Linked DNA regions of Homo sapiens: region 1 is linked to region 2. Evidence: fine-mapped expression QTL. A gene starts in region 2. The other region holds a variant in brackets. All regions are shown on one strand. Distances are from middle to middle.

Evidence for each region.
Region 1: its variant is fine-mapped to the expression of VPS8 in blood mononuclear cells (TOPMed, PIP 0.96).

The regions. Positions count from the first base shown.
Region 1 is chr3:184,995,831-185,005,011 of GRCh38, forward strand. VPS8 (VPS8 subunit of CORVET complex) reads left to right here. Exons shown (of 48, transcript NM_001009921.3): 44 at 502-671; 45 at 3,866-4,031. Among named protein-coding and RNA genes, the nearest start is that of C3orf70, 150 kb to the right of the region's middle. The variant A/G (reference allele first, on the strand shown) is at 4,283.
Region 2 is chr3:184,807,791-184,816,971 of GRCh38, forward strand. It overlaps VPS8 (VPS8 subunit of CORVET complex), which reads left to right and starts at 4,376. Exons shown (of 48, transcript NM_001009921.3): 1 at 4,376-4,435. RefSeq lists enhancers at 4,194-4,243, 4,304-4,503 and silencers at 6,537-6,626, 6,637-6,686.

The DNA of each region.
Region 1 (9,181 bases), 190 kb after region 2:
CAAGGAAGATGAAAATAGAGTAATGGCCATTAGCTTTACTAGTGAAAAGATATTTGAAACATTACCACGAATGCAGTTTCAGTAAAAAATCTGGGATTCAGACTTAGCTGTATTCTTTATTACAACACTCTGAGCCATTCAGAGAGCAGTTATTATATAAATGTAATAAATATATTTGGGCTTATCTAGTCATTTGAAAGCCATCAATACTGAATGAAGCTGCAGAATGGCAGAGCTCACATTTCTCAATAGAAACTAATGACAGATTTGAGAATCTTTGTAATGTATACACTCACCATTACTCTGCACATTGAGGTTAACTGCTTGAATTTGGGAGGTTTTGATGTTTTTTTGTTTCAACAATGTTATCCCTTTATAGTGTGTTTCAATTTTAGCTGTTGGTAGTTGAAAACTAAACAAGTGCTATTCACCATTCATCTCCTCTATCTCTTTCATCTTATAACCTTTTGTTTGTTTGTTTTTTGTTTTGGTGTTTCATAGACCCTGCTGGAAACAACAACCAGCCTTCTAAACCAAGATCTCCATTGGTCATTGTGTAACCTGAGAGCTTCGGTCACCAGAGGACTGAATCCCAAACAAGATTACTGCTCTATATGTTTGCAGCAGTACAAGAGACGCCAAGAAATGGCTGATGAAATAATTGTCTTTAGGTAAGAAAGGGAAGGAAATGTTACATGTATGGTACATGTACATCTGTGGCATTACCAGGCAAGAATCCACATGGATACACGGGTAGTCATTCTAGCAGTGAACGTGATAGGCAAGTTCCTGCCCTCACAGACCTTACATTCTGCATTGGGGTGGAGGTTAGGGTGCCCAGGAAAGACATAAATACAGAGGAATAAGAGCTATGGAGAAAAATAAAACACAGGACAAATAGATAGAAGGATGATGAGTTCAGGACAAGTGCTGTTGAATGAGGGAAAGCATATCTGAGGACATGACCTTTGAGCAGAACGAGAGAGGGAGGAGCAAAGGTGCTGAGAGGTGTTTGGATTCTGAGTATCCTTTAAAGGTAGGGATAACTTGCTGGTGTATTAGATGTGGAGTATAAGAGAAAAATGAATCTTTGGTCTGAGCAATTGGGTAAACATGGTACCGTTGTCTAAGATGAGGAAGAACAGGTACAAGGAACTGGGGAAATCAAGAGTTTTGTCTTGCACGTGTTAGGTTTGAAATGTACTGTTAGACATCAGGTAGGGATGCCAGCTAGACAGTTATTCAAGTCAGAAATCTGGAGATGTGTTGAGACTGGAAAATTTTAATTTAGAAGTTGTCAGCATATGATATTTAAGCTACATTGCAAAGAGAGAGGAACCCTAGTGCAGAGTGAAGGTGTTGGTCTCAGGAGCAAAGACAGCTCATCTAGAATGTATGGATAGAGGTAACATGATATGGCCGTGGATCCAAACTTCCTGACTTCAAGTCTTGACTCTACTACATGCCAGCTGTGAGACCTTGGACAAGTTATTTAACCTCTTTATATCTTAGTTTCCTCATCTGTAAATAGGATAGTAGGGTTTTGTGAGGATTGAATGAGATGATTTATATAAGGCACTTGTAACAGTGCCTGGCATGAGTAAGCACTATCTGAGTGTTACATCTGCAGGAAGATTGGTAGACTTGATGGTTGGAAGGGGAAGTAGTTCTCTTCACACAAAGAGCCCATTCAGGCAAGAAATATTTATTGAGCACCTGCTGTATGCAAGCTGCTATTCAAGGGGATAGGATACAGGATGAACAAAACAAAGGATTTGCCCTCATGGAGTTTACATTGTAGTGGCAGGGATAGACCATAAGCCAACAAGTGAAATGCCAGATACTGATAACTACCATGGGGGAAAAAATGTTAAAGGAGATACAGAGTGTTTGGTGGGGGGTGCAGATATTTTATATAGGTTGGTCAGGGAAAGGCTCACTGTTAAGGTGACTTATGAACAGACAACTTAAAAATTAATTAATAGAAAAATAATAGTTACATGAATAAAAAACAAGCTATGCTATAGAGGAAAAGGAATGTTGGGAGCTACTAATTTATAGAGTAGTCCAGGAAAGCCTTCTTGTTTAAGTGACGTTTGAGGGGATCTAAAGGAAGTGGCCATGCAACGTCAGAAGAGAGTACACCAGGCAGAGGAGCCAAGTGCAGAGACCATGAGGCGGGAGAGCCTTGGCATTCTTGAGGAGTAGTGAGTGAGGAGGCTAGTGGCACCTGAGCAGCCAAGGAAGGGGACAGTGAAAGAGACTTCAGAGGAGCAGAGGCCAAATCATGTAGGAGCTGGCCCAAGTCTAACTCATTTTTATAATGAAAGTGAGACTTTTACTCTGAGATGCGAAGCCACTGGATGGTTTTGAGGACTGGGGCGGTGACATGATCTGACCTATGTCTTAAGGATTACTCTGACTGCTGTGTTAAGAAAGGACTAGAGAGATCAAGGGGGAAAGCAGATGGACCACTTAGGCTGTTGTAGTAGCCCATGTGAGAGATGGTCTAGGTAATAGTCATGAAGTAAGAAGTGGTAGGATTCTGGATATATTTAGAAGGTAGTGGTATTTTAAAGCTATGGAACCTGGAAGTAATCTCTAAAGGAGCAAAGGTAGCTACAACAACAGAGTATAGAAGAGGAAGTTTATATATATATATATATATATATATATATATATATATATATATATATATATATATATATAGCGAGAGAGAGAGAGAGAAGGGAAGAAAAAAGAAAAAGAGTATAAAGACTATAGAAAAGAAAAGGTTTGATTTCTGGAATGTCCGACATTTTAGATTAGAGAAATGAAGATAAATCAGTGTAGATGGCTGAGAATTATTCTCAGTACTCAACTTCTGGGAGGCTGATTTGGTAATTTAGTGTAATCAATAGGGAATTTCTTTATAAGAATAGCGTAAGGATTTACTACAGCAATGACATTTTTGTAAATGTTTAATCAAATCACAACCCTTGCCTTGAATTTGGTGAGCAGACCACTCATGTTGTTATCAAGCTACTTAAATAATTATGATTTTTTCCAGTTGCTTTTTTTTTTCTTTTTGAGATGGAGTCTCATTCTGTCTCCTAGGCTGGAGTGCAGTGGAGCAATCTCAGCTCACTGTAACCTCTGCCTCCCAGGTTCAAGCGATTCTCATGCCTCAGCCTCCTGAGTATCTGGGACTACAGGTGTGTGCCACCACACCTGGCTAATTTTTTGGTTTTTGGTTTTTTTTTTTGAGACAGAGTTTTGCTCTTGTTGCCCAGGCTGGAGTGCAGTGGCACGATCTTGGCTCACTGCAACCTCCGCCTCCCGGGTTGAAGCAATTCTTCTGCCTCAGCCTCCCAAGTAGCTGGGATTACAGGTACCTGCCACCACGTCCAGCTAATTTTTTGTATTTTTAGTAGAGACGGGGTTTCACGATGTTGGCCAGGCTGATCTCAAACTCCTAACCTCAGCTGATCTGCCCACCTCGGCCTCCCAAAGTGCTGGGATTACAGGCGTGAGCCACCACGCCCAGCCCCCAGTTGCCTTTTTTTCAGATTATCTAAAAATACTATCCGGATTTCATAGTTTGAGAAATGAACAGAAGTTCAACTCATCCTCTAGGTAGTTTTTAGTCAGAGAACTGTGATTTGTTCGTACTCACAACATAAGTATACAAATATATGTATGAATGTGGATTTTTAAAAAGAGAGGACAGCAGCAAGTACATTCCCTTTCTTGTTTCTTACCCTGTACAGCCATCAGTGCATTTCTACTTGTTAGAGATTTTTATTGCTTCTAAGTACACTTACAAGCTTATATTTATGGATTTTGTGATAATAAAAAGTACAAATTGGTTGCCTTCGTTTTGCAGCTGTGGCCATTTGTATCACTCATTCTGCCTACAAAACAAAGAATGCACTGTGGAATTTGAGGGCCAAACAAGATGGACATGCTACAAATGCAGTTCAAGTAACAAAGTAGGAAAACTCAGTGAAAATTCATCTGAAATTAAAAAGGGAAGGATAACCCCATCACAGGTAAGACTTGTTTTCGTGGCAAAATGGAAATGGTCTTTTCTTACCAATGTCATTTGGGCCTGGTCTCATTTCCTTCGGTTCCATAGGTCTCAACAAATTTACCTGGTGGGTATTGGGTACATGAAATGTTCTTTTCAGTCCTATTTAGTGTTCGAAGAGCCTCTCCTCTCTACTCAGTATGGAAAAACATGAATTTGAGAGCAACAGATGACATTTTCTGCCTTTAAACGGCTTAAGATCCAGTTGGACAG[A/G]TGAGGTGTACACACATGAGCCTGCTTTTAAGACCTTTTGATAGAGTAACAGCTTAGCAAGTACAGCTGAGTACTTGCAGGTACCAATGAGTACCTATATGATAAGAGTGCAGAATTATGACTTTTAAGTAGGGCTGATGATGGACAAGGTGCATACACATATGCTCTTTCACTGCCTTTGGAGTCTGACTACTGGACTAGATGATAATTTTATGTATTTTACAGCCTTTTTTTAAAGCAGACAGTGGAGCAGAGTTTGAACTCTACCGCTTGATAGTTTTCAGGAGAGCAGAGCTTGACAACATGAGGGGTTCAATGTGGAGAAGTTACTGGGACTGGGACTTGATCATTGTGCTCTACTCGGCTATACTTCCTCTTTGAGGTAGTATCATATTTTTGGCTTCCTGTTCCTTCCTCTGTGCTACCCTATCCTATAGTTGGCCTTCACATTCACATCACATAGTGAAAAGTTGGGCTTGTTACTTTTCTCTTTTCGTTTCTTTTTTTTTTTTTTGAGATGCAGTCTCGCTCTGTTGCCCAGGCTGGAGTGCAGTGGTGCGATCTCAGCTCACTGCAAGCTCCGTCTCCTGGGTTCACGCCATTCTGCCTCAGCCTCCCGAGTAGCTGGGACTATAGGTGCATGCCACCATGCCCTGCTAATTTTTTGTATTTTTAGTAGAGTTGAGGTTTCGTCGTGTTAGCCAGGATGGTCTCGATCTCCTGACCTCGTGATCTGCCCGCCTCGGCCTCCCAAAGTGCTGGGATTACAGGCGTGAGCCACCGCACCCGGCCTCTCTTTTTGTTTCATCAGCCATCAGCATTGTATTAGAAGCAGAGCCTGGGAAAACCTCCTGACTAACTTCTCTCCAGATAACAATGTAGAACTTCTACTCTCCAGTGGTAGCCTTTCCAATTATACCTTCCCCAAGTTTGTATTGAACAGTGTGATAGGCACTGTGCCAGGTGCCTGGGGATACAATGGTAGACAAGGCAAACATGGTCTTGTCTTTCAGAGTATACAGTCAACAAACTTATAAAAGGATTTTTAACAGAGTACTCTCAAGTTTTTTCTGACTCCAATTCAGTTCAGTTCTGATACTAGCTAGAGTTAGAGACTCCATGGTTTAAGGGTTCAGTCCCACACGAACAGTCCTCACTTTAGATGCCAGTCACAAACAAAGTACTCAGGCTACCTACTTTTGTCTGACTTGGCTGCAAATTCAGTGGTCCCCATGACCCCCTCTGAGGTTCCATAATTCACTAGGATGATTCACAGAACTCAGGAAACACTTTATTTACATTTACCAATTTATTATAAAGGATGCGACTGAGGAAGAGCCAAATGGAAGAGGTGCATAGGGCAAGGTTGGGGAGGGGGATGAGGAGTGGTAGAGATTCCATGCCCTTTCTGGGCCTACCACCTTCCTAGCACATCAATGTCTACACCAACCCATAAGCTCCTCAACCCCACCATTTACAGGTTTTTTTTGGAGGTTTCGTTATGTAGTCATGCCTGAAAATTATTGGTCATTTATGATTGAGCTCAATCTCCAGCCCCTCTCCCCTCTGCACAGGTTGGGAGATGGGGCTGAAAGTTCCAAACCTCTAACCATGGCTTGGTCTTTCTGGCACCTAGCCCTCATGCTGAAGCTATCCAGGGGTCTCCAGCCAGCAGTCATCTTATTCTCATGCAAAAGACACTCTCATCACTCAGGAGATTCCAAGGGTTTTAGGAGCTGTGTGCCAGGAACCTAAGACAAAGGCCAAATATATGTATTTTTATTATACCACAAGTACTTACAGATGAACTATGCTGTAAGTACAGATAATGAGTAGATATAAAATAGACATGAGGGATCATGGAAGGCCTGCTAGAAGTGCCCTGTTAGCTTCCCTTGAAGGGAAAAGAAAAGGAGTAAGCTAGACGAGTTTAAGTGCAACAAACCCAGAACTAGAAGGTAAGTAGAATGAAATTAAGAGGGTCAGAAAGAGAGTGAAATGAGGTGAGGTTCATTAGGCAAGCAAGGACCAAGTTAAGTACTCATGTGTGCCAATACTTATGGCATTATATTTTTTCATTGGTAAGTGTAATGTTAACTGTAGGCTTTTAGTCTGTAACCTTTATATCATGTTTAGGGAATTCCTTTTTATTCCAAGTTTTCTTGAGAAATTTTTCATGAATTGGTGTAAAATTTTGAAAGCCATTTACACTACATTGGTTGCCCTCTTCCTATGTTCCCCACACCTCTTGCAGTGAAGAAAGGTAATCTGTTCACTGAATTTCTTCCTACCTTCTCGAGCATCAAGAAAGGTTCGGAAACCATTTAATTTTATTTTTAAATTTTTTATTTCCATAGTTTTTGAGGAACAGGTGGTTTTTGATTACTTGGAAAAGTTATTTAGTGGTGATTTCTGAGATTTTGGTGCACCCATCACCCAAGCAGTGTACCCTATGCCCAGTGTGTACTCTTTTATCCCTTACTTTGCTCCAGTCCTTCCCCCCTCCCTGAGTCCCCAAAGTCCATTATTTCATTCTTATGCTTTTGCATTCCATAGTTAAGCTCCCACTGATAAATGAGAACATAAGATGCTTGGTTTTCCATTCCTGAGTTACTTCACTTAGAATAATGGTCTCCATCTCCATCCAGATTGTGCAAATGCCATTATTTTGTTTCTTTTTATGGCTGAGTAGTATTCCATGGTGTATGTATACCACATTTCTTTATGCACTCCTTGGTTGGTGGACATTTAGGTTGGTTCCACATCTTGCAGTTGCAAATTGTGCTGCTATAAACATGCATGTACAAGTGTCTTTTTCATATAATGACTTATTTTCCTTTGGGTAGATACCAAGTAATGGAATTGCTGCATCCAATGGTAGTTCTACTTTTAGTTCTTTAAGGAACCTCCATACTGTTTTCCATAATAGTTGTACTAGTTTACATTCCCACTAGCAGTGTAAAAGTGTTGCCTTTCTGCCACATCCATGCCAACATCTAATATTTTTTTATTTTTATTTTTATTTTTATTTTTATTTTTTCTCATTTTTTTTTTTTTTTAATTGATCATTCTTGGGTGTTTCTCGCAGAGGGGGATTTGGCAGGGTCATAGGACAATAGTGGAGGGAAGGTCAGCAGATAAACAAGTGAACAAAGGTCTCTGGTTTTCCTAGGCAGAGGACCCTGCGGCCTTCCGCAGTGTTTGTGTCCCTGGGTACTTGAGATTAGGGATTGGTGATGACTCTTAACGAGCATGCTGCCTTCAAGCATCTGTTTAACAAAGCACATCTTGCACCGCCCTTAATCCATTTAACCCTGAGTGGACACAGCACATGTTTCAGAGAGCACAGGGTTGGGGGTAAGGTCATAGATCAACAGGATCCCAAGGCAGAAGAATTTTTCTTAGTACAGAACAAAATGAAAAGTCTCCCATGTCTACTTCTTTCTACACAGACACAGCAACCATCCGATTTCTCAATCTTTTCCCCACCTTTCCCCCTTTTCTATTCCACAAAACCGCCATTGTCATCATGGCCCGTTCTCAATGAGCTGTTGGGTACACCTCCCAGACGGTGTGGTGGCCGGGCAGAGTGGCTCCTCACTTCCCAGACGGGGTGGCTGCTGGGCGGAGGGGCTCCTCACTTCTCAGACGGGGCGGCTGCCAGGCGGAGGGGCTCCTCACTTCTCAGACGGGGCGGCTGCCGGGCGGAGGGTCTCCTCACTTCTCAGACGGGGCGGCCGGGCAGAGACGCTCCTCACCTCCCAGATGGGGTCGCGGCCAGGCAGAGGCGCTCCTCACCTCCCAGACGGGGTGGCGGGGCAGAGGCGCTCCCCACATCTCAGACGATGGGCGGCCGGGCAGAGACGCTCCTCACTTCCTAGATGGGATGGCGGCCGGGCAGAGACGCTCCTCACTTTCCAGACTGGGCAGCCAGGCAGAGATGCTCCCCACCTCCCAGATGGGGTGGCGGCCAGGCAGAGGCTGCAATCTCGGCACCCCGGGAGGCCAAGGCAGGCGGCCGGGAGGTGGAGGCTGCAGCGAGCCGAGACCACGCCACTGCACTCCAGCCTGGGCACCATTGAGCAGTGAGTGAACGAGACTCCGTCTGCAATCCCGGCACCCCGGGAGGCCGAGGCTGGCGGATCACTCGTGGTTAGGAGCTGGAGACCAGCCCGGCCAACACAGCAAAACCCCGTCTCCACCAAAAAAATACGAAAACCAGTCAGGCGTGGCGGCGCGCGCCCGCAATCGCAGGCACTCGGCAGGCTGAGGCAGGAGAACCAGGCAGGGAGGCTGCAGCGAGCCGAGATGGCAGCAGCACAGTCCAGCCTCGGCTCGGCCTCAGAGGGAGACCGTGGAAAGAGAGGGAGAGGGAGACCGTGGGGAGAGGGAGACCGCGGGGAGAGGGAGAGGGAGAGCTCTTTTTTATTTTTTAATTAGGGCCATTCTTGCAGGAGTAAAGTGGTGTCTTATTGCGGTTTCAATTTGCATTTCTCTGATAGTTTAGTGATGTTGAGCATTTTTTCATACATTTGGCCGTTTGTATGTCTTCTTTTGAGAATTGTCTATTTGCATCCTTTGCCCACTTTTTGATGGGGTTGTTTTTTTCTTGCTGATTTGTTTGAGTTCCTTGTAGATTCTGGTTGTTAGTCCTTTGTTAGATCCATAATTTGTGAATATTTTCTCCCACTCTATGGGCTGTCTGTTTACTCTGCTGATTATTTCTTTTGCTGTGCAGAACCTTTTTAGTTTAATTAGGTTCCATTTATTTATTTGGTTTTTTTTGTTTTGTTTTTTATTTATTTATTTATTTATTTTTGCATTTGCTTTTGGGTTCTTGATCATGAGGTCTTTGCCTAAGCCAATGTCTATACAAGGGTTTTTATGGATTCAGGGCTT
Region 2 (9,181 bases):
TACAGTTTACCTTAGGGTTCATTCTCGGTGTTGTACATTTTGTGGCTTTGGACAAATTTATGATGTTTCCACTATTATAGCATCATACAGAATCATTTCACTGCCCTAAAAGTTCTCTGTGCTCCAACAAGTTCCCTTTTTAAAAAAGGAAAAGAGGCCAGTTTATTTTGTGATTGTGAGCAAAAAAGAAATGACAAAGGCATCCATCTCCTATTCTCTGCCTTTTGCTCTCAGGAACAGACATTTTTTTCCTTCAGAAGAGATGTGGCTTATTCTAGATGCAGGGGTAATAGTGATGTCTGGGTCGAGGTCTGCATCCTTCACTCTTGGGGAGAGCTGGAGGCAATAGAGCCGGTGTAAGGACACCATCCAACTGTGGCAGCCCTCAGTGGCGCCCTCTTCTAGCTCCTGTGCACCCCGCAGGCCAGCCCTCACTGCTTCCCAAGGCTCTGAGAGCTCACATGCAACCTTTTTTCTCATTGGCTTAATTTCTCTTAAGACCACTTCACAAAAGCTCCATTGTAATCACTATCTGCTCAACTGCTTTCTCTTACTTACAAGTTTAGTAAACACAAACATTCTTCTGTCTAGGTCTTACTGACCTGTAGAAAGTTAACTGATGAATGGTACATTTTAAGTCAAAACATACTCTCTGAACCCCAAACATAGTAGAGCTTTTGGTACTCTTTCCAAAAAGAAGAAAATCATTACACTATTCTATATGGAAAAATTCCAATATATAAGCTGATGCAAATTTTGCCTTGCAAAAAAATCTCAATACCTGTGTTTAGATAAGTACAAATGAAACTTTAAGAAATTCCAGTATCACTGTTTCTCAAACTTGGATATCGTTCAGATCCTTTGTAAGGGGAAAAGATTCTCACAGATATCTAGAGTTAGCTTATAATTTTTTATAATGTTGCATACATATATGTGTATGTATATATGCAAACACAAAACTAAGAGCTCCTGATTTTTATAGATTTTATGCATCTATAAAACTAAAAAAATAAATTGAATACAAACAAAACTACCAAATGAGGAAATGCAAATCTACAATTTTGATTTAATATAAGGAATGATATTTTGCTGGAGCCAATATTCACATGAATATTGTAATACTGTGTGATGACTCAATTCTCCCACTACCCTTTGTTAGTGCAGCACACCACAATATAATTTGCCTATAACTTGGTGTGACCACATCATTTATTTTAAACATCATTCTCTGTTTTTTTTTCCTCACAAGTCTGTAACAATTCACTCAGTACTATTTGCAATCACAAATCCAGCAGTGAAACTGCATTCCCAGAATAATTATAAAGGGCTGATAAATTTATATAGATATTCCACTCCAATAGTAATCCCATACAGGTTAAAATGAGAGACCATTTCATCTATCATATTGGCAAATCTTTTTTTTTTTAAGATAAAATAAATGCCAGTGGGGGTGCGTGTGATGGGCACCACTGAGAGCTTCTGGTGAGAATGAAAACTGGCCTGACATTTCTGGAAGGCAGTTTGACCACGGGTATTCACAGACTTAAGAGTTTTCAAAGCCTTTGAATCAGTAATTCCACTTATAGGTTGCTAGCCTAAGGAAGGAAATAATTTTAAAATGTGGGCAAAGATAATGTGTAAGGATATTCATGGCAATGTTCTTGTTAGCAGTAAAAAATAGGAACTCCTGTATATGTCCAAAAATAGTGGAATAATGAAATACATGAAACTATATCATTAATAATTATGTAGCCATGACAAATAATATTTGTGAACAATTTTAGTGATGGTGGATAGTGCTCAAGATATAATAGTGAAAAAAAGAGGATGGATTATTAACTATATATCCTATAAATATATAGAATACACAACTAAATATTCTATGCAGTTCTATTATGTCACAAATGTAAATATACAAAGAAAAAGATCCAACGGATAAGCCAAAACTATAAGTGCCTTTTTCTGGGATGTGGGTAATTTCTGCTTTATTTTAAAATATTTCCTGAATTTTCCAAGTTTTCTACAATAAGCACACATTTTTTTTTATTATTATTAAGGCAAACAGCCCTGGAAAGGATAGCATTTGAGATTACTTCCTGCTGTGAACAGAGGTACATAAAAGGGCTGTTACTTTGGAGAGGTCTCAGAGTCAGTCTGGACCATCCTAAAATATTCTTTATTATAAGTTGAAATCTGCCTCTCTGCAACGTCCATACACAGGTCGTAGGCTTGCTTTCTTTCTACAGCTATTCAGAATAAGTCTATGAGTGTTGCAGAGATATTTCAAAAGGGTCAGTTTTTTAAAGTAATGGCAAAAACCGCAATTACTTGTGTACCAACCTAATAGCTACCTTTCCACTGCTCACCCCTATGACCCTGCTCTCCCCTACTTCTGCTAATTTCTTTTCCTCTGGATACTTTCAAAAGTTCTCTGTCACACAGGCTTTCTGGTCTCACCAGCTTGCTTATCCTTCTGTAGACAGTCTCTAGTTTAATAGCTTTACTAGAAAAATGTGATATTCAGAACCAAAGGCCGGTTTCCAGCCTTCTAAAGCACAGCTATCATCTTGCCACTCCTCTGCTCGAGTTCCTCTGGAGACTCTCACCAGAAGAGCAGAACACCCCAGCTTAGCGTGCAATGTCTTCCTGGATCTGGTCCTAGCCTTTCCAGCCTCATAGCCCACCACATCTCTAATACACACTACACCAGTGTCTTCAAACTATGGGTTGCTCTGCATCACTGAGTACTGAAATGAATTCAGTAACCAGCACTTAAAAAAAGAGAATAGAATAGAAAATACCAAGTTGCATTGTACACTCTAAGGGCAATTACTGTTTCAGCATATCTATCTATCTATCTATCTATCTATCTATCTATCTATAATGCACACTCACACATATGCGCATACTGTGTGTGTTTTTATACTAGGCCATGGCTGAAATGTATCTTTTTTTTTTTTTGAGACGGAGTCTCACTCTGTTACCCAGGCTGGAGTGCAATGGCACAATCTTGGCTCACTGCTGCAACCTCTGCCTCCTGGGTTCAAGCAATTCTCCTGCCTCAGCCTCCCGAGTAGCTGGGACCACAGGTGCATGCCACCACACCTGGCTAATTTTTGTATTTTTAGTAGAGACAGGGTTTCTCCATGTTGGTCAGGCTGGTCTTGAACTCCTGACCACCTGCCTCAGCCTCCCAAAGTGCTGGGATTGCAGGCATGAGTCACCGCACCTGGCCTGAAATGTATTTCTTACTGTGAGGGATGATTAAAAGAAGGTTGAAAGCCACTGGCCACACCACGGCTACATCAGGCCAATAACTAGTTCCCAAACTTGCTTTGTACTGCCTTTGATCCCACCCTTCCCTCAGCTAGGCATTCTCCCTGCTCTCTGCTACTGAAATCCTTCAAGGCCCTGACAAGATACCACATCCTTCCTTGAGTGTTTCACCCTTTCCCCCTGTCTGTGCGAAAATGGTGGTTCAATGTCTTTCTTTATATTACTCAAAACAGCCTGCCTTGTATTTTGTTATGTCTGTACACTGAATTCTTAGAAAATAAATACCTGGAGGACAGGGCAACACCTTCGGGTCTTCTGAAGGCCCAGAAGTCTAGTGAACCTAGCTGATGCTCAAAAATGTCTGCCCAACCGAATATTTTCTGTATCTCCTTCCAAGAGTATCTTCTGGTGTTCTTCCTCCTGTTTTCTTGACCTATATAGCCCCCAGCAGGCCTAAAATCTGTGTCCTGGGGCTAATGTTACGTACAGTGATGACTCTAGAAACCAGTCTGTTCTGAAAGCTTTCACCTTTCTTCAGGAGCGATAAGAGAAATAAGCATACGTTTTTGTTCATTTTTCAGATGTTTCCTTTATTTGAGACTATGTTTCTCCTGTATTTTTGGTGTTAAGATGTATTTTGGGGAGCAACACTGATGATATATTACAAGATAATAGTTGGTATTTTAGTATGTGTGTGCCTATTGTACTTATTTGACACAATAAATAGGCAATTCTGAGTTCATCTTTTAAAAAAAAAAAAAAGTTAAAAAAAATTTACTGGTTGCAAACTCCAAAAGGCAGGGAATCAACTTCCCTTCTGGGCTGGCTGCAAGTAAGTTCACTTTCTTAAAGGAGGAGCTTTCTCCTCTCACCTCAAGGACTGTTATTTATTTGTCTGCGCTACTCTTTCGACGTTTCCATTCTCTTGGTCCTCAAGATGTGAATCACCCATTTTTTCCGTAGGGGGGAAGACGGCGTATCTCTGGCCCTTTAAATAGGGGCGTGGTGAAGAGGCGCGGACCGCCCAGGAGGGGGAGCAGTGCGAGGAGGAAAGCGGAAGCGCTGCCCGCAGTGGTAGGTAGTGCGCGTGCGTGAGGCTAGAGCAGTGGGTGCGGTCACGTGGGCCGGCGGTCCACGGCCGGAATGGCAGCAAGCTCAGGTAACGAGTTTCCAGAGAGCGGGCCCGTGGAAGGAGACAGGATTGAGGGGCCGTATTCAGGGTAGGAGGAGAGCGCGCGACAGGTCTCTGAGCCTCGGCGTCTCCTCCCCGCGCGACAGCGGCGGGACCTCGGGGAGCGAACAGAGCAGCCCCTGACGGGCTAACCGGACCCGAGCCACGGGCCGGGCGGGGTTGATTCTCGAGTGGAGGGGCGTGTCGTACGTTGGCCCGGAACTGGGTCGGGCAATTTCCACTTACTGGTTCCAAATGAATGTGAAAATTCAAATGGGCTTAAGTAAAAAGGGATTTATTGGCTCCAAACCTGGAAGGGGCTGAGGTATCACTAAATCCAGTGACTCCGGTGATGTATTTGTGTATCTCTCCCTTTCTGCAAAGGGCCAGTAACCCCTCAGTTCCCTATCTACTTTGCGACTATAATTGCAAGCCTCATTCTGTCCTGTTACAGTCGTGCGGCAATTAGGCTGAGGGACTGGCGCGCCCGCTCCCCCGACTGTGAGCCTAGGCGGCGGGTGTCATGCCCCTCCCCACTCCCGGGCGGAACAGGTGTGTAGCCGGTCTGTCGGGCCTGGGAAACAGGTGTGGACCCCTTTAGCCTCCAGGGACTGATATCAAGGTGCCTGAGCCTGAGGCTTAGATGGGGTGTCCACCTCTTAGGATCGGTGCGCACCCTGTGAGGCTGGTTCCAGTTTGTCTCCGCGTGCAAGTTGTGCACCAGAGTGAGGGCAGCAGGGTGAAAGGTGGGCCTCTGAAGTTCGAGGCTACTCCTGTGCCTTGGCCAGTTCTTTGTGCTTGGCATCTGGGGAAGGAGGGAAACAGCTGCTCAGAGTGTCTGGGTGTACAAAATGGGGGTGCTTTACAGGAGGATAGGGTGGGAGGAGGTAGGATCGGTGAGAGGTTCCATGGCCGTGGGTTATCAGGAATAGCTAGCTGGGGAGCCTTCTTTAAATAAGCAGGCCCCCTCCACTTCTTAGATTCTTGTTAGAATGAATAGGAAGGCTTCTGGCCTCTGCACCATCCACCCTCTACCATACTCTACTTTCCCCTACTGAAAAACCCCAAAACCCAAGCAAAACAAGCATGGATGTTAGCTTGTGGTGCTAAACCTTACTCCAAATGTCTGCATTTGGGAGACAATTACATGTTAATTGTCTGTGTATGTCTATGTCTGCCTGTGTGGGTTTGAGGTATATCTAATATAAATGTGGATGGAGAATCTGCATATGTTTGTGTAAGACGTGGGTTTGCTCATGGTTAAATTTAAGCACAGAATAGGTATTGAATCCTCTGGCAATAGCTGGCCTGTTCCATAGAATATGCAATAAAGATAAATGGAAAAAAAATTCGTTGAACTACTGGGCTTTATATGGTCAAAGAGGCATTTGTGAGAAAATTCTTTCCAGAGCTCTAACAGAGTAATATGTTGATTTTTTCTTTATATTTAATATATTTGCTTCGTATCTGGACCATTGTCAGCAGATGGATGTTTTCTGTCTTCCAGAATATTGGGACATGTTGGTGATTCTTAGCTGTATCTCACTATTCCATTGACATTTCAACCAGTGTGACACAAAATGTCAGTTATGTATGTGAATGAGAAGTAAGATCTTTTGAATTTAATGAAGTATGTTTAACTTTGGATCTATTGATAGCTTTCATAGAGTTTAGATCGTATGTTCTCTTGATCCACAGCTGTAGGTGTCATCGGTACATAGTGGTAAGATCAAACTGTTGTATTCTTAACTGAATCTTGAATGAATATTTGACTTATCTTCACGCTGTATGACATTATTAAATGTGTTCTGTGTTTTAGCAAGGAAATATAGCTTTGCGTTGGATTTTTCACTGTTATGAATTTCTTAGGTTTACTGTAATAGCAATTATACTTTTTTAGTCAAAGATATTTCTGTTGCAAGTGACAGAAAATTCAAATGGGCTTAAGCTAAAAGGGATTTATTGGCTCCAAACCTGGAAGGGGCTGGGGTATCACTATATCACTAAATCCAGTGACTCCAGTGATGGAGTACTTGTGTCTCTCTCCCTTTCTGCAAAGGACCAGTAACCCCCAGTTCCCTATCTCCTCTGCAACTGTAATTGCAAGCCTCATTCTTCCTGTTACAGTCATGGGACAGTTAGGGGATATGTTCTGAGAAATGTGTGGTTAGGCAAATTTTGTCATTGTGCATGCATCATAGTGTACTTACACAAACCTAGATGGTGTAGTCTGCTACACACCTAGACTATGTGGGATGGCCTGTTGCTGCTAGGCTATAAACCAGCACAGCATGTTACTGTACTGAATACTGTAGGTGGTTGTAACACAATGGCCAAGTATTTGTATATCTAAACATAGAAAAGGTACAGTAAAAATACAGTTTAAAAGATTGAAAAATGTGAACCTGTGTGGGGCACTTACCATGGATGGAGTTTGCAGGACTGGAAGTTGCTGTGGGTGAGGCAGTGAGTAGTGAGTGAGTGTGAAGGCCTAGGACATTATTGTACACTACTGTAGACTTTTTGAACACTGTACACTTAGGCTACACTGAATTTATTAAAAATTTTTTCTTTCTCCAATAATAAATTAACCTTAGCTTACTGTAATGTAACTTTTATGTTATAAACTTTTTAATTTAAAAAAGTTTTTAACTTCTTTGTGATAAAACTTAGCTTAAAATACAAACACATTGTACAATTAGCTGTACAAAAATATTTTCTTTATATCCTTATTCTGTTAGCTTTTTTCTATTTCAAAAAATTTTAATCTTTAAAAACGAAGACGCAAACACACACATTACTCTAGGCCTACACAGAGTCAGGAAGGTCCCGGTGGAATGTCTTTAGAGGCAGTAACACATAGGGAACTGTCATCTCTTATGATAACAGTGCCTTCTGGAATACCTCCTGAAGGACCTGCCTGAAACTGTTTTACAGCTAATTTTTAAATTTTTAAATAAGTGGATGAGTACACTCTAAAGATAAAAAGTATAGGATAGCAAATACATAAACTGGCACATAGTTTATTATCAAGTATTATGTACTGCACATAATTGTATGTGCTTAGCTTTTATACTACTGGCAGTGCGGTAGGTCTGTTTACATCAGCATCACCACAGACAGATGAGTAATGCATTCATTACAACAGCTGTGACATCACTGGGCTACAGGCATTTTTCTGCTCCATTATGTGTAATGTTAGGGGACCATGGTTGTATATGTGGTCTGTCGTTGACCCAAAACGTCTTTTTGGGGCACATGACTGTATATAAATGCATAAAAGATGTGACTGCAGATGACTCCTGTGTTATGCCATCCAAGATTAAGCACCCTAGAATAAAGAGAAATTCCAGAAGTACCTTGATTGGCCACATAGGACCCAAGAATGTGATGTGCCTACTCTTCTGCTCCGCTAGCTAGGCAGATAGGGTACTTGATTGGCAGCACCACCAAAATCACATGGTTGGAATGGAGGAGAAGCAGTTGCCCTCCAGGAAAGGTGGCAGTGGTGCTGGGGTGTTTTAACCTTTGTTTTTTCCGTTGCAGTTCAGCAAGACGCTTCCAGTTACTTCCTGCTCTTAAAAAAAAAAAAAAAAAAAGAATAAATCTCTCATGACTCTATATCCTTCTTGACACCTAACCAAGAGAAATTGAGATGACAGTTAATTGCAAATTAATAAAGAAGGCCATCATCTACTCAGCCTTTACCTAAGTGGAATCCTGTCTTTTGCGCATTTAACTTACAAGAATTTACCTGCATCAGTCAGTTATGTGAAGAAGAAAAGGGAATATATTTCAGCGTACACAAGGCCCTTGTGCTTTTTAGGAGGAGTTCTTTGGAGCTGAAGTGGGTCTGAGAAGAGACATTCTCATGATAGTGGAGACAGTATTATAGAAGCTGGAAGTGATCATTTTTCTCTGTTATTTATTTCACTTATTACCTCACACACATATTGATATAAAACTGATCAATAAAGTTAGAATTTCTACATTATCTAGATATTTGTAGACTTCGTTCATATTATTGTTTTGTATATTGTGATAGGGGATTAGATTTTTCTTTTCTAGGCTGGAGCTGATTGTCTGACAATTCATAGCAGTAACTTAGCACTCACTGTATACAGGAAGGTCTTAGGCACTGTTCCTTCCCCTTACTTTTCTTTTTAACATTTTTTAATCTGTATGTACTTATGATCACTCTCCTCATTTAGACATTCACCAACAACAGAAAGAGAAACAGAGGGTTGGGCTTTTTCGTCGTGGCAGTTCTGGCACTGTGAGCTACAATTACCTAAATGTGCCTTCTTGGAAAGAAATTCCAGGGTCAAGTAAAGCAGCCCATCCCAGTATATAGTAATGTTTCTCTAAATAGGGTCTGTATCTAAATGAATAAGGTGAAAATTGAGTACCCTCAAAGTACCCCAAGAGGGAGTCATATCAGAGACTGACAAGCGGTGGGTCTCTCAGGAAGCCCCATACGGCCAGATCTTGTTTTTCCATGTTGGAACTGCATGGCGTTTGTTATTTTGAGCACAGGTGACGTGAACTGCTTGGGTGTGAGGCATGTGAGAACTGAGACATAGAACAGCAGCTGACCATCTCCTATTCTGTGCCCACTGTGAAGCAAGAAGTTATTGAGTGGAGGTATGCAGAATCATGAATCATGATTCATAGAATCATCTATATGAATCATTTCTTTCTCTCCTTCCCGTTGCTGAAGATAATAGATGAAAT